Linked DNA regions of Homo sapiens. The protein of the gene in region 1 interacts with the protein of each later gene in a pairwise test. Each region holds a gene or a part of one and is shown in the gene's direction. Other genes may lie near its edges.

Region 1 (7,800 bases):
ATCCATTAAGTGAAAAAAGATCTAATTTGGTAAAACCAAAAAATTTCAAATTTTTTTAAAAAGGGACTTTTGGCCAGGCTTGGTGGCTCACACCTATAATCCCGGAACTTTAGGAGGCCAAGGCGGGCAGATCGCTTGAGCTCAGGAGTTTGAGACCAGCCTGGGCAACATGGTGGAACCCCATCTCTACAAAAACTACAAAAGTTAGCTGGGCATGGTGACACGCACCTGTAATCTCAGCTACTCGGGAGGCAGAGGTGGAATGATCGCTTGAGCCCAGGAGGTTGAGGCTGCAGTGAGTCATGATCACACCACTGCATTCCAGCCTGGGTGACAGAGAGAGACCCTTTCTCAAAAAAGCAAATAAAATAAAATTAAAAAGGGTCTTTTGCATGTACAAAAACAAACCCATAATCCCCAGCAGGGTTTCCTAATTCTTCATTAAATACATCACTACCACTGTGGCTGGAGTTTTAAGCATATGATCGAGTCACTCAGGCCAAAAAGGAATGTAAAACATTTCTCATGAGGTGATGTATTTTTATCCCTTTCTCCTTAGGGACATTTGTCACTAAACAGATACTTTATTGTTTGTTATCTTTTGTGTATTCTGGGGTGCTATCGAAAAAAATTACATTCCATTCAACAACTAAATGTATCACACAAAAACACTTTAATCTATGGGAAGATAGACTTTCTAAAAAGTATTACAGTGGCATATGCCTCTTGCTTTAGTGAAACAAAGAAATGTAGAGTTATTTATTACTTTGCAAAACCCTTTCAAATATAATTTGGTACTGACAATTCCTTTAGGAGGTAGGTGAAGAAGCATTTTATTATTATTATTTTACAGATGAAGAAACTGAGGCTTAGTGCGTTGAGGGAACTTGTTGAAGGTTGCACAATTAGGGAATGGAAGTGAGGTAGAAGATGTTCCAAATCAATACAGCAGTCTTTCCACCGCAGGTACATATTGGTAGTTAGTCCTACCTAGCTACTTTATTTTATTCTTTGTGTGACAGCCTAAACAATATTGTTGGGAGGAAAAGTAGGTATACCACAAAAAAATCAAATAGAGGTTCAAGGGATTCTTTTTGTTTGTTTGTTTATTTATTTATTTATTTTGAGAGAGTCTTGCTCTGTTGCCCAGGCTAAAGTGCAGTGGAACAACCATGTCTCACTGCAGCCTCAACTTCCCAGGGTCAAGCAATCCTTCCACCTAAGCCTCCTAAACAGCTGGACCACAGGCATGCATCACCACACCACCTATTTTTTTTCCTTTTTGTAGAAATGGGGCTTTGCTATGTTGCCAGGCTGGTCTCAAACTCCTGGGCTCAAGTTATCCTCCTACCTCGGCCTCCCAAATTGTTGGCATTATAGGCATGAGCCACTGTGCCTGGCCCAAGGGATTATTTTTAACATTGGGATTTTCCATCAAAAAGAAGTGTCATCCCAGGGCTACAGTGTCATTGAGGCTTAAAGAGGAAATGGTGAGGAGTGAGGTCGTTTGCTCTTACTGGAGCTCAGCATATTGGCTATCATGGGAGAGAGCTTAATGACTGAAGAATCTTAAAGGTATTTAATGATTCCTGCAAATGGTCTGGTGCCAGGGTCACTGATGTCAGCTATACTTACTTTTGTATTTAATTCGTTTGAAAACCATTTGTTGAGTGCTAGCATGGCCCAGGCACTCCGCTGTGTGCTGGTGCTACAAAAATAAATAAGTGTGTTTTATGGGAACAAGAAGTGAGTTAATTAATTAAATTAAGTTTGATTTATAAACAAGATGTTGCATGAGTCCAGAGTTTTTTTTTTTATTATTATAAGCAGGAGCCTGTGCTCCTTTATAGGTATCAACAGTGGACCTGTCAAAGGAAACATTTAGTAAACAGTAGTCACTCTGGGCTTACCTGAGGGCAGCTTTACTTATGAAAATAGAGGTCAGAGTGAGATGAAAGATGCCTTCTTTTCCTGAATAACCAACACAGTGCAGTTAATGCATTTCTCTATTATTGCACCAATCAAAAGATAATCCAAAATAATTGGCTGTCAGATATAGTCAGAATCCCTGCCCTATACTTCTCTTCCTTCATCTGACTGACCTACTCATTCTTTAAGGCCATGCACTAACATCATCCCTTTAGGTAAATTTCCTGGACCTCTCTTACCCATCCAGCCCCACCCTTCCCCCCTCCAAATTAAGGCAGGGTTGATGCATACACACCACACACACACACACACACACACACACACACACACACACAGAGTAGTACACTCTTATCCATGGGGGATACATTCCAAGACCCCCCCCATGGATGCGTGAAACTTCAGATAGTACCAAACTCCATATACATTATGTTTTTTCCTGTACATACATACCTATAATAAAGTTTAATTTATAAATCAAGCACAGTAAGAGATTAACAACAATAGTAGAATAATTTTAACAATGTACGATAATAAAAATGATGTGACTGTGGTCTCTCTCTGTGTCTCTAAAAGTATCGTATTGTACTCACTGATTTTCAGACCATTGTTGACCTTAGGTAACTGAAACTGTGGAAGGTAAAACCTCAGATAAGGGAGGACTACTGTATATAGTATTCTTACCACACTGTATATTTCTCTACTAGGCTGTGAGTTCCTTGGTGACAAAAACCAGTGACACTTACATGCACTGGACCTTCCATAGGATCTAGCATAGACCAAGTGACAGTGGCAGCATCTTCAAGAGGTGGCATGGAGTGAGGGAAAAGATAGCATTTAGCTTGTCTTCTCCTCCCTCATAATCTCTATTAACCACCCGCCTGCACCCCAAATGAACATACATCCTACATGAAACCAGGGTATTAGTCCGTTCTCACACTGCTAATAAAGACATAGTGAGATGGGTAATTTATACAGGAAAGAGGTTTAATTGACTCACAGTTCAGCATGGCTGGGGAGGCCTCAGGAAACTTACAATCAGAGCAGAAGGGGAAGCAAACACATTCTTCTTCACATGGCATCAGGAAGGGGAAGTGCTGAGCAAAAGGGAGAAAAGCCCCTTATAAAACCATCAGATCTCATGAGAAATCACTCACTGTGGGAACTACAATTCAAGACGAGATTTGGGTGGGGACACAGCCAAATGATATCAACCAGTATGCATGCTAGGCCAATGTGGGATTAAGCAAAGCCCCAGCACCTCCTTCCTAGCAGAGTGCTTAAAGGTCCCCTCCTGTATATTACTCAAATTCAATAAATGTCTGTTAAAACACTTTTGGGGGAGTGGCAATGGGACGAAAAAGAAAGAACTTGAATGACCATCATTTTTTAAAATGAGGTCCATTGAGGTATAATTTACATGCAGCAAAAGTTTCCCTTTTCCTATATAAAATTTGATGAGTTCTGACAAATGCATAGTTATGTAACCACCACCATCATCATGATAGAGAACACTTCCATCGTCTCAAAATAATTCCCTTTGAACTACCATAATTTTAAATGAACTCTTTAGAAGAACCACAAAAACTTATCAATGTTGTAGATTACATAACATATACTTGCATCTTGGACAACTTAACATATCTCTCCAAAATGAATAGTTGTTTTCCCTTGGTTATCATGCCATCATTTAGTTGTATTGCATTTTCTTTTTGGAAACCTCAAGGCATTTAGCAAACAGGATTTCATGTTTATTCCCAAAAACTCTGGCCCAACTGTAGAGATTTATAGTCCAATTCAATGAAACCCATGCATTTCTTTCCCAGTTTAACCTGATGTTTCTCTTCTTACCAGAGACTTCCATGTAAATACTTTAACAATGTTAGGTGTGTTATATATAATGAGGTCATAATCAGTTTCAAATTAGCATTGCGCCTTTCACTTATTTATCAATTATATTCCCTTGTGATGATTATGAAAAGGCTCCACATCCTGAGGACACTTGTCAGAGTTAGATTTATTAATGGAATGAAATAGCAAATAATGAATGACTAAATAAATGAATGAGTGAATGAATGAATGAGTGGCTGCCTCCATTTTATGGATGAGGCAGTGTCCGAAAGGCACAGTGAGGTCAGGTGATGGCAGAAAGCCACACACCGATGTTGGTGGCTTTCTGCCAGGTCAGATGCCAAGTTTATTTTCTTTGCTTTCTTGCTTTACTATCAACTAATCTTTAAAATCATTCCCATAAAATATCAACATTAAAGAATAAAAATGGAAAAATAAGCCACATACAATTAAATGGCTTTTTTAAAAGGAGCTCAGTGTGCAAAGGATAACATGAGTAAGGATTTTTTGGGAAATTTTTCACCTAATAGGAAGAATGCTTTACTCTTTTATTTATCAAACCTTCCTCATCATTAAATGGATTCAGTAGTACTTTTTGGTAATAACTCGTGTGTGTGTGTATGTGTGTAATAAAGTACTTTGTATATGTTCATTGTGTTCTTTTTTTAATAAGCTGTTTTAATGAAAAAGACACAATTACCGTCACCATTGCCCACTATATAATGACAAGTAGGGGAGGGGAGGCTAAAAGAGCTTCTACATAGTGAGAGATCTTCCATTGTTATACCTACGCTTGCACTTTATTTCATTTTCTTCCACGTTTGGACAGGTCGAGATTAAATGTGATTACATTTCCGTTGAGAGGCTTTTATTCAGCAACAGGATTCAAAAGAATGTCAATGAGCATAAAATAAAAACGGTGTGCAATTTATATGAAACTCTGATTTAAATGGTCCTAACCAAAAAAAAAAAAAAAGAAAGAAAGAAAAGAAGCTATTTAAAGTAACCCTCCCAAGGGGAGTCAACTGCTCTTCAGTGTGCCCTGAGCCGGCTGTGCCTTCTCTCCATCCGCTGCTCAGATATTCATGAACCGTTGCTTCTTCCAGCCTCGCCTTCTCGCTCCCTCTGCCTTTCTGGCGCTGTTCTCCCTCCCTCCCTCTGGCTTCTGCTCTTTCTTACTCCTTCTCTCAGCTGCTTAACTACAGCTCCCACTGGAACTTGCACAATCAAAAACAACTCTCCTCTCTCAAGCCGCCTCCAGGAGCGCATCACCTGGAGAAGAGCGACTCGCTCCCCGCGCCGGCCGCGGAAGAGCAGCCAGGTAGCTGGGGGCGGGGAGGCGTACCCTTCTCCCGCTCGGTAAGAGCCACAGCATCTCCCCGGAGATTGGCCGTATCCCACCGTCCGGCCCCCAGGGTCCTGCAGCGGTGATGCATATGTTTCGGAGCAATGATGGAAGGAGAAAAGCCGCTGTCGGTGGCAACTGAAAGTGGGGAGAGGTTGCTGCAGTAGCTGGTGCTGCAGAATGCGCGAGTGAAGAACTGAGCCCCGCTAGATTCTCCATCCCGCTCAGTCTTCATTAACTGTCTGCAGGAGGTAAACCGGGGAAACAGATATGCACTAACCAGGCGGGTGCCAACCTGGATCTATAACTGTGAATTCCCCACGGTGGAAAATGGTAAACAAAGACATGAATGGATTCCCAGTCAAGAAATGCTCAGCCTTCCAATTTTTTAAGAAGCGGGTAAGGACAGGTTTTGCTTATTTCTTTTGTTTTCTGTGCTTCTCTTAAATGCTTTTGAATGTTTGCCTGAAGTAAGCCTGAGGTTTTGTTGCTAAACCCTTAATGTAAGCCGTGCTTCTGATGGCAGTGGTAAAGCTGAGAACTATACCTGACTTGATTAGAATTTGTTGGAGGAGGGGCAGGGGGCTATGAAGAGTTGCATTGGGAGGAGGGGGTTGGGCTGAGATGCCTTAAACGGGTTTGAGCTGGGAATGGGGATTTTTCTCTCTCAAGCCACAACAAAGATTACAAGGCAGTCGCAAAGAGAACTGGCTTGAGTACAATTATGGCTAGTAATTTAGTCAGGGGCTAATTTAGCAGCTTCCTCTCATCTTTGAAGGGTTCAACTTTTCTACACCTTTCATCCACTCAGTCTCAAGTGATGCATTATCATCTTCGTTCGTCAGAAGCAGCAGCTTCTGGTTTCCCAAATCCATTCAGCCAATAATTTGCTGTGTCTCTATCTGTGGTATAAATAGCAAAGGAGTAGAATGACCTTTTACAGAAATGATGGAATCCAGCATTTAAAATTGTCTATTTTAAGTTGCCTCAATTTTTGCTTTTGCTTAGAATAACTGCCTTTTTTTTTTTTTTTTTTTTTTTTTTTTTGGGAGAGAGCAGTGGGAGGTCTGTATTTGAGTGATAATTCAGGGTTATGTTGCTGTATGCATTTATTTCTTAAACTCCTTATTCTTCAACTCAAAGTATGAATAATGTTGCATTGGTTGTAGGTGAGAAAAAAGGATTTTTTTGCATGTATATTTCACAATAAACTCAGTTCACTGGGATGGCCACACTGGTGGTCTGTGTAAATCTGCAAATTTATACACAAGCGGGAGGTAAGAAATGAATGATTGTTAAAGGAATGACACTGACACTCTTAAGGACAGTGTTTCCTAAGCAACGTAAGAGAAGGAACATCCTCCAGTCCCCAGTTGCCCCATCCTATTTAATACCCTAGGGCAATTCCACCAAAATGGTTCTCTCCATTCATTCCTCCTTCCTTTCATTCAGGTCCTTTCTGTGCCACTCCTGAAACACAGCCCTTCAGTTAACTCATCCGCAGAACACAGTGAATTTCAGGGTGGGCTGGACTATCTCCCTGCACCAAATGGGCAAGCTGGGAAGGCAAGGCTAGAAATGCAGGCAACATGTCAGGCCCAGCTAGAGGGCCAGCGAAGGCTCCCAAGCACCCTTGACTGAGTTCTCATCAGTAAAGCAAAATCTTTCTCCAAGTCTGTGGGCCAAAGCATATGCATTCAAACCAAAATGAAACCAACCTGTCCTGGCCCCTGCTCTTGGAGTGGGAGTACCATGTGAAATCTCACTAGTGAGCTGCAAGCTAAGTGAAAGCAAGTCAGTGCAACTTCACAGAGCTCCACAAGGCTTCTTAGTTTTTCTCTGTAGCTAAAATATTTCTTTCCAAGGGAAGAGCCCTTTATGAAAATTAATTTTCTTTCTTTCTTTTTCTTTTTTTTAGAGACGGGGTCTTGCTATATTGCCCAGGGTGGTCTTGACCTTTTGGGCTCAAGTGGTCCTCCTGCCTCAGCCTCCCAAATTGCTGGGATTACAGATGTCCACCACCAGGCCCAGCCCTAATTTTCAATAATAAACAAATGTTTTGCTAATTTTAAAAATGCCATAGCCCATTATCCAGTATTTAAACTCTATTGCCTTTTAATTACTGTATTTATTTCATGGTATTGGGGATATTCTAAAACTCCTCAGTCAGATGTTCTTAAGCAATGTAGATTTAAGTTACATAAATTTTAAATTGTCTTTTATTTTCTTTGTTATCAAAATGTACTAATAGAAATACTAATTTGCCATTTGGTTTTGTTTTGCTTAAAAGCAAGTTTACCAATAGACTTCAGTTGGTGACTCTGCAGACCTTGAATTTTGCAGAGAACCACCCAGGGTACTGATGTCTTATCTGAGTACATGCAGAAAGAAGTTTCTACCAAGATAACTGGCAGGCAGCTTCATCTAACTTCTAACCTGGGTCTATCAGTTGCTGGAGACAGGATCAGACATCTCTCCTGCCCCTGCGCTCTCCTTACTCCTCAAGGACAGTTAACTAAGTAGAAGGTGACCTTGTATCAAGTCATTGAATGCCCCAGGGATAAATTCTTTGATTTTTGTCTACTTTGGTTTATTCCACAAATTCTGTATTCTAAATGTTTATTTCTGCTTGTACATGACTTTGCTTTTTTTGTTTGTTTGTTTTTAGTTAAACAATA
Region 2 (7,038 bases), on another chromosome or scaffold:
TTTAGAAATGAAAACTGTATTGGGATTTTAGTTAACATAAAGTTCTTAACTTTTAGAAAAACATATTGAAGTATTTAGAGATGAAATGGAATGATGTCTTAGATTTGCTCCACATTATTCCAGCAGCTGAGATACAAGTAGGTGAGCCTCAAACTGGAACCAGATATGACATGTATTGAAGGTTGTTGATGCTGAGTGACAGGTGTTCTGGTTTCATTATGTTATTCTATTATTCAAGGTTTTTGAGGCGCTCCCTAAGAAAAAGTTTTTATCGCAAATTTCACACCGTTTAAAGTGAAATCCTATGTGAAACTGAACACTTTGCAGAAATAAAATAAATACATTTCCAAATTGGTCCAAAAAGGAAAAGAAAACTTAAACTATACAAACAGAAATGGTACAATATTCATAGCTCAAGCCACCCTCAAATGTTCCAGTCTAGGCAGTCTTGGAGGCCGATTGAACAAAATGATCAGGAAAAACTAACTACCATCTTACCTCAACTCTTCCAAGGCATACAAAATATAGACTATCGTTCAATTCCTTCTCCCAGACTTGCCCTCTTGGATACAAAAACCAGATGAGGACCACCCCCACCCATGGACAAAAACACATCAAGGAAGCTCTCATACATAACACCACATATCCTACATAAGTTAGTAGCATATTAAATGAACAAACAGGCTCTGCCCAAGGAAAGAAAATATGATTTATTGTTACAAAAAAGAAACGTATTTCATTGTAATTCCTTACATACAAAATGGAGAAGAAAAAGATAAGTGCTCATATCACTGGGTATAGGAAAAGCTTTTGAAGGAAATTCAATATGAGTTCAAAGTAAACATATTTAGTTAACTTCTTTTGAAAGAGAATTTCCATTTACTAAAATCAACAGCAAACATACATAAATGCTAAATGTTCGAGGACTTATTATTAAAGAGAGGAAAAATAATTAGATGTAAGGTATTATCTCCAGCTTTTAAATCAGTATTGAGACACAAAGTCAGAGCTATAAATATCAACATAAATAAGGAGTATGAATAGTGGAAAAAATATATAATGTTTAGTGATAACATGATCAGTCTTGAAAATTCAAAGGAGTAGGCATGTGGAAGATTCAAGTGAATGGGCCTTCAGAATGAGGTATACAACAGATTATAATAGCAAAATCAAAATCTTTGCCAGATGAAAGCAATCAGTAACTAGAACACTTAATATACAATATGCCTTTTTCAATAGCATCAAAATCCAAGAATTACCTGAAAAGAAGCCTAGTAAAAATGCAGAAGGTCTTTATAGAGGCAACAATCACAGTATACTGACAGATTCAAGTAAAAGGAGTTTGAAATTAATACATGAGGCTGGGTGCGATGGCTCATGCCTGTAATCCCAGTATTTTGGGAGGCTGAGGCGGGCAGATCACCTGAGGTCAGGAGTTCCAGACACACCTGGCCAATATGTTGAAACCCCATCTCTACTAAAAATACAAAAATTAGCTGGGTATGGTGCCATGCACCTGTAATCCCAGCTACTCAGTAGGCTAAGGTAGGAGAATCACTTGAACTTGGGAGGTGGAGATTACAGTGAGCCGAGATAGTGCCACTGCACTCCAGCCTGGTAGACAGAGGGAGATGCCATCTTTCTCTCTCTCTCTCTCTCTCTCTATATATATATATATATATATACACACACTCACACACACATATTATAGAGGAGCATAGCATATTCATTGATGAGAAAGAGAACACTGTAAAAATGTCAAATGTGCTTCAATTATGTACAATTATGTACAAATTATGTCTTACCTGTGGCTGCCAACGTGACAATCAAATTTGGGCTGCTGTTCTCTGCTTCACAAATCAACCCTGGAAAATTATAGAAGGGAAAAAGAAGGAGAAAGACACAATATCAGCAACAAAGTCTAAGCAACAAAATAGAGAAAGCCCTGGGTGATGCTGAAGATGGTTGAACTGGTAATTGTGTTTGACACTTGCAGTCTCGGTTGGAGGGGGGGTGGCAGCAGGGATACTGGGGAGGTCTGTACCCTGCCTAGACTGCAGTTGACAAAATGGTTACAATGAAAGTTTTCAAATTTCCACTTCACATCATTACACAGTCTGAGGCAGCTCCTCAAAACATGATGCTAGTAGCCCTAGGGCAACAGCAGGACACCAGTTAAACAGGGCTGGTTAAGACAGTATGGATCAAGAGTTCCACTAATAACAACCAGACACCAACATAGTGGGTGAGAAATTGTGTTTCAAAAAAAATTATTTCAACAGAACGTAAAGAATGGAAAAGAAGTAGAATAGGATATAAGAGTGAATCATGCATACTACTGGTAGGTATTCTTTCCTAGAAATAAATACATATATATATACAGCTACCTACATATATCCTTGGAAGATACGAAAAGTGTATTTCTTTTTCATTTTTTAAATTTTTTGAGACAGAGTGTCACTCTGTCGCGAGGCCCACGCTAGAGTTCAATGGCACGATCTCGCCTCACTGCAAACTCCGCCTCCAGGTGCAAGCGATTCTCACGCCTCAGCCTCCTGAGCACTACCACACCCAGCTAATTTTTGTATTTTGTGTAGAGACGGGGTTTCACCATGTTGGCCAGGCTGGTCTTGAACCCCTGACCTCAAGTGATCTGCCCGCCTCGGCCTCTCAAACTGTTGGGATTACAGGCGTGAACCACCGTGCCTGGGAGTAAAACATATTACTTTGAGGACAAAAGGTTTGCCAAGTGTAGCTCTGGCTGGAGAGAAGCCCCCGTGGGAAGGTGTGCGTCTTCTCCCAGAGGTCACTACAATCGCGGGAGCTGCCACTCTGCAGGGAGCACCTGGCCTGGGACCTGCAGCCATTCTCTGCAATGGGTGCAGCTGGGCAAATGCTCAGAGATGGCAGAAACAGCATCTCCCGCCCATGACTTCAACAAAGTGCCAGGAGCCGGGAGGAGGACCTTCCTGAGTGGGGACAGAGGGTCCACTCTCCCGACGTAGATGGGCCACAGAATGCAGCTCAGCCCCTCCTGTCAGCCCTGGAAGACCCTGGCAATGTTACCACGACCACACCCCCCCTCCCATTGCCACCTCATGGGACTGGGGGCCAGAGACTTGGTGGGAGAGAAGCAGACACAATCGGCAGAGAATATGGGTGTCCAGATTCTGCCAGGCATGAAAGTCAGGACCCTGAGGGGTGACCGAGGGTCCCCCAACCCCACGCCCAACCCCACTACCACCAACACGACGACTTAAGCCCCGGGGCACCACTGGCATCCCTCCCCCTACCACCCCCAATCCCTCCCTTTACGCCACCCATCCAAACATCTTCACGCTCACCCCCAGCCCAAGCCAGGCAGAATCCGGTTCCACCCCTGCTCTCAACCCAGGGAAGCCCAGGTGCCCAGATGTGACGCCACTGACTTGAGCATTAGTGGTTAGAGAGAAGCGAGGTTTTCGGTCTGAGGGGCGGCTTGAGATCGGTGGAGGGAAGCGGGCCCAGGCTCTGTAAGGAGGCAAGGTGACATGCTGAGGGAGGACTGAGGACCCACTTACCCCAGATAGAGGACCCCAAATAATCCCTTCATGCCAGTCCTGGACCATCTGGTGGTGGACTTCTCAGGCTGGGCCACCCCCAGCCCCCTTGCTGCTTAAACCACTGGGGACTCTGAAGTCAGAGCTCGTGTGATCAGGGAAGGGCTGCTTAGGAGAGGGCAGCGTCCAGGCTCTGCCAGACATCATGCTCAGGATTCTCAAGGAGGGCTGAGGGTCCCTAAGACCCCACTCCCGTGACCCAACCCCCACTCCAATGCTCACTCCCGTGACCCAACCCCCTCTTCATTGTCATTCCAACCCCCACCCCACATCCCCCACCCCATCCCTCAACCCTGATGCCCATCCGCCCAGCCATTCCACCCTCACCCCCACCCCCACCCCCACGCCCACTCCCACCCCCACCCAGGCAGGATCCGGTTCCCGCCAGGAAACATCCGGGTGCCCGGATGTGACGCCACTGACTTGCGCATTGTGGGGCAGAGAGAAGCGAGGTTTCCATTCTGAGGGACGGCGTAGAGTTCGGCCGAAGGAACCTGACCCAGGCTCTGTGAGGAGGCAAGGTGAGAGGCTGAGGGAGGACTGAGGACCCCGCCACTCCAAATAGAGAGCCCCAAATATTCCAGCGCCGCCCTTGCTGCCAGCCCTGGCCCACCCGCGGGAAGACGTCTCAGCCTGGGCTGCCCCCAGACCCCTGCTCCAAAAGCCTTGAGAGACACCAGGTTCTTCTCCCCAAGCTCTGGAATCAGAGGTTGCTGTGACCAGGGCAGGACTGGTTAGGAGAGGGCAGGGCACAGGCTCTGCCAGGCATCAAGATCAGCACCCAAGAGGGAGGGCTGTGGGCCCCCAAGACTGCACTCCAATCCCCACTCCCACCCCATTCGCATTCCCATTCCCCACCCAACCCCCATCTCCTCAGCTACACCTCCACCCCCATCCCTACTCCTACTCCGTCACCTGACCACCACCCTCCAGCCCCAGCACCAGCCCCAACCCTTCTGCCACCTCACCCTCACTGCCCCCAACCCCACCCTCATCTCTCTCATGTGCCCCACTCCCATCGCCTCCCCCATTCTGGCAGAATCCGGTTTGCCCCTGCTCTCAACCCAGGGAAGCCCTGGATGGCCCGATGTGAAACCACTGACTTGAACCTCACAGATCTGAGAGAAGCCAGGTTCATTTAATGGTTCTGAGGGGCGGCTTGAGATCCACTGAGGGGAGTGGTTTTAGGCTCTGTGAGGAGGCAAGGTGAGATGCTGAGGGAGGACTGAGGAGGCACACACCCCAGGTAGATGGCCCCAAAATGATCCAGTACCACCCCTGCTGCCAGCCCTGGACCACCCGGCCAGGACAGATGTCTCAGCTGGACCACCCCCCGTCCCGTCCCACTGCCACTTAACCCACAGGGCAATCTGTAGTCATAGCTTATGTGACCGGGGCAGGGTTGGTCAGGAGAGGGCAGGGCCCAGGCATCAAGGTCCAGGCATCCGCCCGGCATTAGGGTCAGGACCCTGGGAGGGAACTGAGGGTTCCCCACCCACACCTGTCTCCTCATCTCCACCGCCACCCCACTCACATTCCCATACCTACCCCCTACCCCCAACCTCATCTTGTCAGAATCCCTGCTGTCAACCCACGGAAGCCACGGGAATGGCGGCCAGGCACTCGGATCTTGACGTCCCCATCCAGGGCTGATGGAGGGAAGGGGCTTGAACAGGGCCTCAGGGGAGCAGAGGGAGGGCCCTACTGCGAGATGAGGGAGGCCTCAGAGGACCCAGCACCCTAGGACACCGCACCCCTGTCTGAGACTGAGGCTGCCACTTCTGGCCTCAAGAATCAGAATGATGGGGACTCAGATTAGCATGGGGGTGGGACCCAGGCCTGCAAGGCTTACGCGGAGGAAGAGGAGGGAGGACTCAGGGGACCTTGGAATCCAGATCAGTGTGGACCTCGGCCCTGAGAGGTCCAGGGCACGGTGGCCACATATGGCCCATATTTCCTGCATCTTTGAGGTGACAGGACAGAGCTGTGGTCTGAGAAGTGGGGCCTCAGGTCAACAGAGGGAGGAGTTCCAGGATCCATATGGCCCAAGATGTGCCCCCTTCATGAGGACTGGGGATATCCCCGGCTCAGAAAGAAGGGACTCCACACAGTCTGGCTGTCCCCTTTTAGTAGCTCTAGGGGGACCAGATCAGGGATGGCGGTATGTTCCATTCTCACTTGTACCACAGGCAGGAAGTTGGGGGGCCCTCAGGGAGATGGGGTCTTGGGGTAAAGGGGGGATGTCTACTCATGTCAGGGAATTGGGGGTTGAGGAAGCACAGGCGCTGGCAGGAATAAAGATGAGTGAGACAGACAAGGCTATTGGAATCCTCACCCCAGAACCAAAGGGGTCAGCCCTGGACACCTCACCCAGGATGTGGCTTCTTTTCACTCCTGTTTCCAGATCTGGGGCAGGTGAGGACCTCATTCTCAGAGGGTGACTCAGGTCAACGTAGGGACCCCCATCTGGTCTAAAGACAGAGCGGTCCCAGGATCTGCCATGCGTTCGGGTGAGGAACATGAGGGAGGACTGAGGGTACCCCAGGACCAGAACACTGAGGGAGACTGCACAGAAATCAGCCCTGCCCCTGCTGTCACCCCAGAGAGCATGGGCTGGGCCGTCTGCCGAGGTCCTTCCGTTATCCTGGGATCATTGATGTCAGGGACGGGGAGGCCTTGGTCTGAGAAGGCTGCGCTCAGGTCAGTAGAGGGAGCGTCCCAGGCCCTGCCAGGAGTCAAGGTGAGGACCAAGCGGGCACCTCACCCAGGACACATTAATTCCAATGAATTTTGATATCTCTTGCTGCCCTTCCCCAAGGACCTAGGCACGTGTGGCCAGATGTTTGTCCCCTCCTGTCCTTCCATTCCTTATCATGGATGTGAACTCTTGATTTGGATTTCTCAGACCAGCAAAAGGGCAGGATCCAGGCCCTGCCAGGAAAAATATAAGGGCCCTGCGTGAGAACAGAGGGGGTCATCCACTGCATGAGAGTGGGGATGTCACAGAGTCCAGCCCACCCTCCTGGTAGCACTGAGAAGCCAGGGCTGTGCTTGCGGTCTGCACCCTGAGGGCCCGTGGATTCCTCTTCCTGGAGCTCCAGGAACCAGGCAGTGAGGCCTTGGTCTGAGACAGTATCCTCAGGTCACAGAGCAGAGGATGCACAGGGTGTGCCAGCAGTGAATGTTTGCCCTGAATGCACACCAAGGGCCCCACCTGCCACAGGACACATAGGACTCCACAGAGTCTGGCCTCACCTCCCTACTGTCAGTCCTGTAGAATCGACCTCTGCTGGCCGGCTGTACCCTGAGTACCCTCTCACTTCCTCCTTCAGGTTTTCAGGGGACAGGCCAACCCAGAGGACAGGATTCCCTGGAGGCCACAGAGGAGCACCAAGGAGAAGATCTGTAAGTAGGCCTTTGTTAGAGTCTCCAAGGTTCA
Region 3 (4,011 bases), on another chromosome or scaffold:
GTGGGAAGGCTGGGGAGGACACCCAGGAATAGAATGCTCTCTGGAGCAGGGCAGAGCCCTAGGGCCCACAGGGAGGCTCCGCAGGAGCACAGAGTCTGGAATCAGGGCACAGCAAGCATTTGCGAGGTGAACGGAAGAACATTGTCAGGCGCTGAGACGCGTTCTCAGGGTCCTGGGGAGAAACTCCACCAGGCAGCCCCAAGCTGGGAAGGGCACAGAGCGGGCAGGCCTCCCCCATTCTGTATGCAGGAGACTGAGGCCTAGGAGAATGGTGAGGGGATAAGCACCCCACCTGTCAGGGCTTCCTTGGGCCAGAGATCCTTCTGGGGGCCACTGCTGGGTGGGCAGGCAGGAGTGGGCTTCCAGAAGCCTCTGGCCCTGCCCCCAGCCTCTCTGTGCCTGTCCTTTGTCCCATCTCTCTGGCTCATCTCAATGCCCTTGACTCAGCGGACCACGCTCTTCACTGTGTTGTGTCTCCCCCATCCCCGCCCCCTCTCCGGCTCTGTCTTCTCTCTTAGTTGCGTACTTGAAGGACCGAAGGCTGAGTGGAGGAGCAGGTAGCCCCACGGCCCTTCCCCTGATGCATGGACGCCCAGCCTCCTCCTCCCCCGCTCCTTCCTCTGCGCAGTGTGCTGCAGCCAGGCCGCATCTTGCTGTGGTTTGGAACCTTCTTGTGTCCTGTTCAACTCAGAAACCCCACAGATTCTTGCTTTTCTGCAGGCTTGGCCTCTAGGTTGGCTGGGTTGCAGAGCAGTCTTGCTTCTAGGTTGTCATGAGCTGCGTGGCTTCCAGAGCTCTGGGGATAGGAAACAGACCCTCCTTAGAGGTAGAGCCCAGGCCTGGCCCTGCCTGAGCCACATAGGTGGCCAGGAGAGTTCCGGAGGGTAGAGTTTGCTGCCCGCAAGTCTTGCTTGTGAAACTCTGAATTAGGGAATTAGGGCACAGTCTGAATTGAGGGCAGTATGCGACCACCGCTCCGCGTCCTCCTTTACAGAAACAGTCCTACTTCTCCACTGGCATCCTCTTGAGGGAGGCACGGCTGGAAACCCAGCACCTCCCTGCACCAGCTCAGGGCTGCCTGGTCAGCTGCTGGCCGCAGCCCCCTAGGCCCACTCACTGTCGCCGGCCCTGCATGCCCCCAGCCCGACAGCTGTCGCCAGCCTCCTGACTCAGGAGGAGCCCTTTGTGCCTTCGAGGAACGGTTCGCTGGCCGCTTTGCTTGCAGCCTACTTTTCCCACCAGAGGCACCTGGCCCTGCCCGCCAGTCCTCAGGCCCATCCTGTCTCTGTCCACAGTGCCCTCAGCCAGCATGACCCGCCTGGCACGCTCCCGCACTGCATCCCTCACCAGTGCCAGCTCGGTGGATGGCAGCCGCCCACAGGCCTGCACCCACTCAGAGAGCAGCGAGGGGCTGGGCCAGGTCAACCACACCATGGAGGTGTCCTGTTGAAGCCCTTGATCCCGCTGACGACGCCCACGTCGAGGCCCCACCGCCATCCTTGCGCCGGCTCATGTTCCCTTTAGTTTATTTTTGTGAGGGCAAAGGGGAGGAAATGGGGTTCTGTTTGAAAAAAATGAGGGGATCTTAGATGCTGCAGCAGAACAGTCTCCAGGTGTTTTAAGGGGCTCAGTCCTCCTCATCCCATCTCACTCTCCGTGGTAACTTAGCCAACTTGACCCCTCTCATCCCACTCCCGGCGGCCCAGGCACAGAAGGGCAGGGCCATAGGGAGGGAGATTCGCTACGGATCCAGGCCATTCCTGGGTGAGCCCTTGGGCAGGCATGTTTGGAGATGAGAGAGGCTTCGAGAGGGTGGGTGCTGGGCCACAGGGGTGCGGGGCCAGCTCAGGCACTGGCGTGGGAGCCCTGGGAGACCCCTTCCCCCACCCTCCACCAAGCACACCTGTTTCTGTCTCATAGCACATGTGACAATCATCTGGACAACAGCCACAAGGGGGCGCTCGGACCAGGCAGCCACTTTCCTGGTGCTCTCTGGGCCCAGCTGGTGCTGTAGGGCCACGCAGGCAGGGGCGTCAAGGGGTTTCTCTGCCCAAGGAAGACAGAACATGGAGAACCGTCAGGGCAGGAACCCCACAGACTGTCCCTTCCAGCCCACACTCTGCCACCTCCTGGCCCTGTCCCAATTCTGAGCCAAGGCCTCCCCGAGGCAGAAGTTGCCTGGTCCTCTGTCCCCACAGTGACCTGACTGGGGGTGAGGGAGAAGGAGGAGAGAGCCCATGTGTGGTGTGTGTGCCCCTGAGAACTTCGTGGTGACTGCCTTTGGGAGCCCGCAGGTGGCCAGAGGCAGGGGTAGCTGAGTTCCTGGAGACCCCTTTTTTGCCCCCAGGTTCCCCAGAGGGCAACGCCATCAGTAGCAGTGTGGTGTTTCAGGCAGAGCTCTGGCCAGGCTGTGCCAGTGTGTCCCGGACGCATCACTAAGGAAGAGAGAGTTTATTTAGTCAACTGGCCCAAGGCAGCGAGGCTTCTACAGTCCCACACCCCATAGCCGCCTGGGCTGGGGCTTACTGGGGGCTGAAGGTTCTGGACATGAACAAGGGTCAGGTAGAAGAGAAAGGCTTCCCCTACACCCCAGCCTCCTGCTGTCCCCTGAAGCCCAGGACTGCGTTGTATGCTTTCCATCCACTCACCTTACCCCATAGCATCTTGCGGCCCAGAAACCAGAGCCATTTGTCTCAGACCCTAAATCAATAATCACAAACCCCAAAACGGGAGAGAGCAGTGAAAACATGCAGGGCTGTGGACGGGGGAAGGGTTGTGGCGGGTGTTCTGAGGCTGAGAGGACACCTATATGCGTATTTCCTCTACACACATCACCCCCCTTCTATAATCTTAAGCCATGACTAGCCTGGTGGCGTGTTAGTTTCTGCCCAGTTCTACCCCCTCATGTGCTTCTTCTGAATACTGAATGTGACTGTTTGAAAGCTGGTAGAATTCATCCCTCTTACTGTAGATAACACTGCAAATCTTGGAATTTTGTTTTTTGCTGTTTCCAGATGTATCTATAAATATCTATACATTATATGTGTGTGTGTGTGTGTGTGTGTGTGTGTACATCGGGTCCTCCCATGTGTGGTGTTCTTCTGGAGGTTGTCTCTTTGGTCAAGGTGAACTTTTAATGTTTATTATTTTCTTCTCCGCACAAAGTAAAGAGCCTAATTTTGTGTATTCTGGTGGCTGCTGTCATGAGATGATAAAATGTAAAACAAAACTCTAGTCAACGTAGAAAGAGTTAACTGTGCTGAAAAACTAATAAAGAACCTAAGAAGAATTCCAGTGTGGTGATGCCATGCCCATCATGGGAGGCTTTTGGAGAAACAGAATGTTTGGGCAGGGGCTGCTGGTGCTGCTTGGGTTTTGGGTTGAGGGTGCTAGGAGAGGATGGTCTCCACCCATCTTTCTATTTCCAGTACACGTCACATTATTTTACCGGTGAGATGAGAATGTCACAAACATTAAAAGCCTTATGTGCTCATTTCTGCTTATGTGCTCATTTCTCCCCTGACTCTGTGACAAAATACAGCTCTCCTCAGCCAGGCACGGTGGCTCAAGCCTGTAATCTCAGCACTTTGGGAGGCTGAGGCGGGCAGATCACTTGAGGCCAGCAGTTCGAGACCAGCCTGGGCAACATGGTGAAACCCCGTCTCTACTAAAAATACAAAAATTAGCTGAGCATGGTGGCGCGTGCCTGTAATACCAGCTACTCGGGAGGCTGAGGCAGGAGAATCGCTTGAACCTAGGAGGCAGAGGTGGTAGTGAGTGGAGATCGTGCCACTGCACTCCAGCCTGGATGACAGAGCAAGACTCTGCCTCAAAATAAAACAAAAAAACAAAATACAGCTCTCCAGAAAAAAATGCCTTAAAGACAAAACAAAACACCCCTGCCCTCCAAATCTCTTGCCTGAGTCACTACATTCCTTCAAAGATAAATGACCTACTCTTTGCCTTCTCCTAAACATACGATCATGTCTGACAGGGTTAATGATTATACTC
Region 4 (6,858 bases), on another chromosome or scaffold:
TCACAGTCGGGCCACTTTAAAACTTCTGGTGGTCTGATTCACAGCTCATGTTGGTATCTGATATCTACCATCTCCTGGTGCCTCCACTGAACTTTTTGATTTAATACCCTGTTACACAACACTAGCAAGCAATAGGAGACAAGTAAAAACACAATTTCAATTCAATGATATACGTTCTCTGTGTGGATTATGCACAGCAGGTTATAGAAACACACTGGGTGACAGGGGGCCCTACATAATCTTGAATGGGCAGAGAAAGGCTGCCAGAAATATCTGTCCCTGTGACCCAAAATATACAGAAAATAGGTTGAGGATATGGGAGTGGTAAGAAGAAAGGATATCCTGCAAAAGAGAGGAGAATGTGTAAAGGTTGGAGGCAGGAGGTATTGAAGATGTAGGTGGATCAACAAGGCTGGTGAGGTGGGAGGGCTCATCAGAAGCCACTTGCCAGAAATACCTTGAATGCACTCCAGGGCATCTGTAATTGATCCTGAGAAAAGTAAGGAATTGGAGGCGTTTTAAGTAGAGGGGTGACTGATAAATTTTCTGTTGAGAGATCATTCAGATAGCAGTGCAGAGAATATAAGAGAGGGAAATTCACTGTCAGAAGCATATTCCTTCTGAGAAGAGCATTCACTGTGAGAGGGATAGTGAGTCAGAACAGTGGAATGGAAAGTGCATATATTCTAGAAAATAAAATGGTAGAACTGCCAGAACCTGGTGACTGATTAAATATGTGTCATGAGAAGGAGGTACCAAGGGAAACACCCAGGTGTTTGTCTTGGATAACTGGATTGATGGCAGTGTGAAACAAGTATTACTGGCTAGATGTCCTAAAACTTCTTGTAAGCTAAAAGAAACTATGGAAGGGTGGAACAGTCTAGATTTGTTTTCATTCGCTGAACATAAGCCTACTTGTGACAGGCACAAGGACAGGTAAAACAAAAGAAGCTATGGGATAAGAACTGAGAGAAATATTGCCAGGCATGGGGGTGGCAGTGGGGGAGGCGGGGGGAGGTAAAAGGAAAATGACCTTTTAGGGGATTAGATCACATGAATTAGTAGTGGAACCAAGAGTCTTCATTATGACCTTCTTTCAGCAACCCTGGGCAGTGTGATGAATGATTCAGAGAGGGCAGATGTAGATTGTGGGTTGAACTCTAGCTGAAGAATAAGGAACGGTGAGAGTAAGTTTAGAGTCAAGTACAAGATGGGAAGAAATGTGGGATCAATACGAGCATCACGAAAATGCCTTCCCATAAGCACAGGCTGGAAGGGGAAGCTAGAAAAGCTAGAATGGGGCCAATGAGAGAATGCAAGGGATGGTAAGGCTGGAGGCCAAAGAATTGGGGATGAAAGAGAGAAACCAATAGGAGACAGTCATCAGAATGTCAGTGTCCAAGAGAATGGAAGCATAAAAATTCCCAATAATAAGGTGAGAATTTATTGACTGTAGCAAGTCGTTTTGAGTCAAGATCATTAAAAATATAACAACATGAATGTTGACATTCCATAAAAATGGAGTCCAAAGGAAGTCTATGAGCAGGGTTAAAGTTATGCTGGAAGTCAGGAACCACCGGAACAGGTTGGGAAAAGAGCAGAAAGTTGAAACTGTTAAGAGCTCATGGTTAGTGTCCTGGAGGAAGAGGCAGAGGAGTGGGGTGGAGTGGAGCTAAGTGCGTTTTCTTCCTTTGATTTTAGAGGTGTTGCCTTCACTAGAAGGAAACTGGTATTATCAAGAACAAACAGGTGTTGGTAGCGATCATAAGAGAAAAAAGTGTTCTAGAAAAGAGTTCTCTTTCAGCCAGGCACAGTGGCTCACACCTGTAATCCCAGCACTTTGGGAGGCTGAGGTGGGTGGATCACCAGGTCAGGAGTTCGAGACCAGCCTGGCCAACATAGTGAAACCCTGTCTCTACTAAAAATACTAAAATTAGCCCGGTGTGGTGGCAGGTGCCTGTATTCCCAGCTACTCAGGAGGCTGAGGCAGGAGAATTGCTTGATCCCAGGAGGCAGAGATTGCAGTGAGCCAAGACCACACTATTGCACTTCAGCCTAGGAGACAGAGTAAGACTCTGTCTCGAAAAAAAAAAAAAGTGTTCTTTTTCAAGCAGATAATATGTTACAATAACAGAGCGCTCATTGACAACCTTTTTCATGCCACTGGTCACTGTGGAAGCAGGAAGGAGAGGCAAAGCAAAGATGGCTGAGGATATGCAGTACAGCAAGGAGGGTGCAGTAAGAGACCCAGTTGAAAGTGTTCTCCTAGGTGGCAATGCTAAAATAAGCTCACTTGAGGCTCTTCTGAATCATTAGCCCTTCTAGAAACTCCAAGGACGTATTAAATTCACTCACTAAAATATTTTGGGCATAGCGTAGTTGCTGATCATCTCCATGATTACTTCTTTGAAGTCTTTCCTTTGAACATTTTTTAAGTGCTTACTGAGAATTCTTAGGCAGAAAATAAAACAGAAAGATCATCCCGTGCCAGAGTCTGAATACAGACAGGGCTCATCGATCAAACAAATCCATGCAGAAAACTTAAAATTTCCTATTAAATAAACACCACACATTAAATATCAGAAAGTGGTGACTAAGAGGTGGGGAGAGGAGGGATATACAGAAGGTTTCACCCACACCCTGTTTTGTGGTTTTTACCCGGATGCCACAACCACACCTATGAGTTTCACTTATTAAAATAATAGAGAAGTAGAGTAACTAGAATCTGCTGAGCAGAGCATAGTGCTAAATACAGTTCCTCAGAGACTGAACCTGACAGGCAAGGTCAGGATTCAACTTGGAGAATGTCTGATGAGATTAGCCAATGTTTTTTTCCAACGTGGTCTACCTGTGTGTGCTGATGCATGTAGATTTGGTAGATTTGCTCATCTTTAGTAGACGAGAAAATTAAGCTCATCTCCTCTGTTGAACTTACAAAATGTTGACGTTAAAACCAACGATAAAATGGAGATAAATGGGGATAAACTAGAGCAGGAAATTCGAACCATACATAGACTTAAAAAAAAAATCCCCTTAAGCCATTAAAAGGCAATAAGCAATTAGTTTTATACCAGTGAAATCAATAATTAAAAGTTCTACTTAAAAAAATATAACCCATGCAACATCGTGTGTCCACTGAGCAGTGATAGGCGCCTGTGTAAGGAAAAGAGCTCTCATCATATCAGCTAGCATTTAAGGAGCTTACTGTGCGCTCAACTCTTTTCATGTTATATGATCTAATGTGAGCATCTATGCCGGTGGATTTCACATCCCCGTTTCACGGACGAGGACACCTCCGGTGACCTGCAGGGACCCCGCGCCAGTGGCTGCTGCAGCTGACTCATCCGACTCCCACGCGCGACGCTGCCCTAGTGGCGTTTAAAAAAATCCCACTCGAGTCCCATTTAAAACATAAGCACCCCACTTTTTAAGTGTGACTGGTGACCTCGATTTTACCTTCTGAGTCACAGCACCAAGACCTGTGTATCTGTCAAACTGAGCACAGTGGGCGAGGGCGCGCTGTGAGAGCTGGGGAGAAGACAGGTGGAGAGCACAGGTGCAAACTAAGGGGAGGGCTAGAAGGTAAAAATAGCGATCAGGGGTATGGGGGTGCGCATGGAGACGCCCGCGGAGCGCTGGCGCTGGCCAGCGGAGCAGGAGGTGAGGTCGGCGGAGCTGGGAGGACCGCGCCTGGCGGCTGCAATAGCCGCACCTGTGCACGTGATCGCGAGCGGCTCGGGCGCCAGGGCGGAGCGGCGCTCACCTGGGCCCACGTGACGGGGCGGGGCTCGAGGAGCCCCACGGCCACGCCTCCTCCCGCGCGGCGCGCCCGGAGCCCGCGGAGCTGAGCGGCGGCGGCGGCGGCGGCAGGAGCCCGGGAGGCGGAGGCGGGAGGCGGCGGCGGCGCGCGGAGACGCAGCAGCGGCAGCGGCAGCATGTCGGCCGGCGGAGCGTCAGTCCCGCCGCCCCCGAACCCCGCCGTGTCCTTCCCGCCGCCCCGGGTCACCCTGCCCGCCGGCCCCGACATCCTGCGGACCTACTCGGGCGCCTTCGTCTGCCTGGAGATTGTAAGTGGGGCCGCCGGAGCGAGGGTCGCGCGGGGAGCGAGGACAGGCGGCGGCATCCTTGTCCCCCGGGCTGTCTTCCTCTGCGTCCGCCCCCGGCCTCCTTCCCTTCGACGTGGCTTTGTCCTGCGCTCCCTCCCGGGGTCCTCTCGGTGCCCCGCGCCGCCGCCCGGGCCCTCCCTCCTAGCACCTGTTACGCGGGCACCTGCTCCCCCGCGGGCGACGGAAATTGCCTGGGGAGGGCGAGTAGGCGGCCCGGCAGGGCCGAACATTGGGGACGTGGAGGAAAGAAAGGTGTTGGGGCTCAGAGGCGCCTTTAGAAACCCAGGGCATGGCCAGGGGCCGCGCTTGGCCGGAGCGAGCTCCTGGCTCTCGGCCTCGCCTGTTGCTAACCTGCCATTTTGTTGGGTGGTGCAAAGGTGTAGCCGATGACTGGGTGACCTGGTGGCTGCCACGCTGTGGAAAGTGGGGGCGGGAGGCAACAGGAAGAGGAAGAGGGCTGAGGACTTGAACATGCTTTTTCCCCACTCACCCTTGCCATCATTAGTGGCCTTTGGATTGGAAAGAGGAGCTGGGCAGGAGGCAGGGCAAGGAGAAAGGTGAGTTATGTGCCATGCCCTGGGCAGTTTCTAATCCAGTGGGTGTGACAATGGTGGGGGAAAGATGGAAACGTGGCTCTCGAGTTCTTCTCTGCCTGCCTTTGCACCTTCTCACTTCCTGGCCTCCTTACGCAACTCCAAACCTTTTTAGCACACTTTGTTGGGCCCAAGTAAAGGTGGGGTTACCTGCCTGTCGTGCAGCCTTTTTAGGTAGCACTTGAACTTTTTAAATGGAATTTTATGGAGTTGGAAACTTTCGAAGCTCCTTGTGGACAAGTAGATAATGTGCAAATATAAATTGGGCAACCTGAGGTTGCATCATGCCTGAGAATGGCAAATAAAAAGTGAAATGTTAGCGAGTTAGTGCCTTTCCGGCAGGCTGGTATTGTTTGCTCGGTTTAGGATTTTCATCTCTCCCCTCACCCTGGCCTTTGAGCTTGCATAACCTTTATTTGGGTCGCTTTGGTTTCACTTTTGTGCTTGTGGAGCTGGATCACCTTGTGAGCACTGTTCTATTATGCTCAGGTAGCCACACCACCCTAAGTTAAGTTTAGCCCGGATTTGAATCTGAAAGAGGAGACGTGAGTGAGTTGCAGGCTATGACATCAGTAATGGGATCCTGACTGCGAGGCTGGTTTGAGTTTGAGCCTGGTTCAGAAGCATCTGAGTGCTTGGGATGAGGTGCAGGCATCCATGTGGGAAGAGCGGAGAGACGATGGCATTGGGCTGGCTGCCTTGCTGTGGGAGGGAGACACGTTTAGAACTGGAAGATCTGCAAAGAACGATTTCTTAGGTTCTCGGCTACTTTATTCCATGTTCTGCAAGCTCCAGTTTTTTGCCTACCTCTTTGAGAAGTTTTTGCCATATCCGCATTCCACCTGTACTAGAATTTACAGACAGTTCATTGAAATACTTTCTAAACTTCAGTACTTTTGTCTTTTCTTAAGCAATAATATACATGAAATTTCAAATTTGATATTCTGGTTATATTTTTCTAATGTTTATTCAAATATATGTATGTATGTATGTAAAGATACATGTATGTGTATATGTAAATATATATACATGTGTATATGCAAAGAAGGCTTATCCATATGCCCTCTAATCAAATACCATCTCAAGAACCTGTAGTCATGTCAGACTTTTAGGAAACAAGGCCTAATTCTGGGGGAAAAGAATAGAAAGTGACTTAGTCAATTTCCCCCTCCCCCTCCCCATTATATCTTTTTTAAATCTAGCCCAGAGGTTAGTTCTCAATTCTTGCTGTACTTAATAACTTGAACAGCTTTTTAAAATAACTGTTACCAGCCCAGACTAATTAAATCAGAATCTCTGGGGGAGTGCCAGAGTTCACTAGTTATTTTTTAAAGCTTCCCTGGTGATTCTAATATTCAGAGCCTAGAGAAGACAGCTCTGCTTTCAGAGATGTGAATTCTCTCTATCCGCTAAAACTGCCACCACTCCCCAACCTAGGAGGGATTCCAGACTCACAGAAGTGTCCAATCTAATCCTCTTATCTCATTTCCTCTGGCTTCTTACATCCTGAAACATGTCTCACACTCTTGGCTACGTAGAACAGCATCACTTCCAAAAGCTTATTAGTTTGCTTCTCTCTTTTTATGGCCAACTCAATAAGTTTACATTTTAGGCCCCCTTTATCTCCTTTACTTGAATATCAATCTCCCCCACCCCATTGAAAAATGACCAAAATGTTCCAATGAAACTGGTGACGTTAGAGAAACAAAACAAGAGACCACACTAGAGTCAAACTATAGCTCCTCGGCTCTCATCCTTTAGGACTGTTTAGAGATATTGGTTTACATGCTTTAAGAGAGCAGAGATCAAAGCTGGCTTGTTACCCCTCCATTTAGAATACTCATCTTGAGTGGATGTACAGATAGAAGCTAAGTGAACACTTTTGAAGCAACTTAGCTCCTAGATGTCTCAATTTCCATCTAATTTTCTGATTCTTTTAAAATTGGCCATCTCCCATGGCTCCTCCTCAGAAATTCCTCAACCTGTAAAGTAAATGTGAGAATTTCCCAGGCACTGTCCTAAATGCTAAGTGATCTCCATTCTGGGGACCCATTATTTTAACCTCTGCCGGTGTTTCTGGATATCCTCAAACTCCATTTTAATTTTGACCTTCTGTTCAAATTCGTTTGTCTTTAAGAGTTCTTCATTTCTGTCCCATT

What was found.
Region 2: the proteins of SGK1 (region 1) and MAGEA1 interact in a two-hybrid assay, tested with the Homo sapiens proteins (one study listed by BioGRID and IntAct).
Region 3: the proteins of SGK1 (region 1) and NDRG4 interact in binary tests that used the Homo sapiens proteins (3 or more experiments, as listed by UniProt).
Region 4: the proteins of SGK1 (region 1) and MAL2 interact in binary tests that used the Homo sapiens proteins (3 or more experiments, as listed by UniProt).

The regions. Positions count from the first base shown.
Region 1 is NC_000006.12:134,315,113-134,322,912, reverse strand, and holds the start of SGK1 (serine/threonine-protein kinase Sgk1), read left to right. Parts: upstream 1-4,800; 5' UTR 4,801-5,452; coding exon 5,453-5,521; intron 5,522-7,800. UniProt on the Homo sapiens protein: Serine/threonine-protein kinase which is involved in the regulation of a wide variety of ion channels, membrane transporters, cellular enzymes, transcription factors, neuronal excitability, cell growth, proliferation, survival, migration and apoptosis.
Region 2 is NC_000023.11:153,175,246-153,182,283, forward strand, and holds the start of MAGEA1 (melanoma-associated antigen 1), read left to right. Parts: upstream 1-4,038; 5' UTR 4,039-4,120; intron 4,121-6,931; 5' UTR 6,932-7,004; intron 7,005-7,038.
Region 3 is NC_000016.10:58,510,127-58,514,137, forward strand, and holds the end of NDRG4 (protein NDRG4), read left to right. Parts: intron 1-518; coding exon 519-557; intron 558-1,295; coding exon 1,296-1,450; 3' UTR 1,451-3,493; downstream 3,494-4,011. UniProt on the Homo sapiens protein: Contributes to the maintenance of intracerebral BDNF levels within the normal range, which is necessary for the preservation of spatial learning and the resistance to neuronal cell death caused by ischemic stress.
Region 4 is NC_000008.11:119,204,538-119,211,395, forward strand, and holds the start of MAL2 (protein MAL2), read left to right. Parts: upstream 1-3,825; 5' UTR 3,826-3,935; coding exon 3,936-4,067; intron 4,068-6,858. UniProt on the Homo sapiens protein: Member of the machinery of polarized transport. Required for the indirect transcytotic route at the step of the egress of the transcytosing cargo from perinuclear endosomes in order for it to travel to the apical surface via a raft-dependent pathway.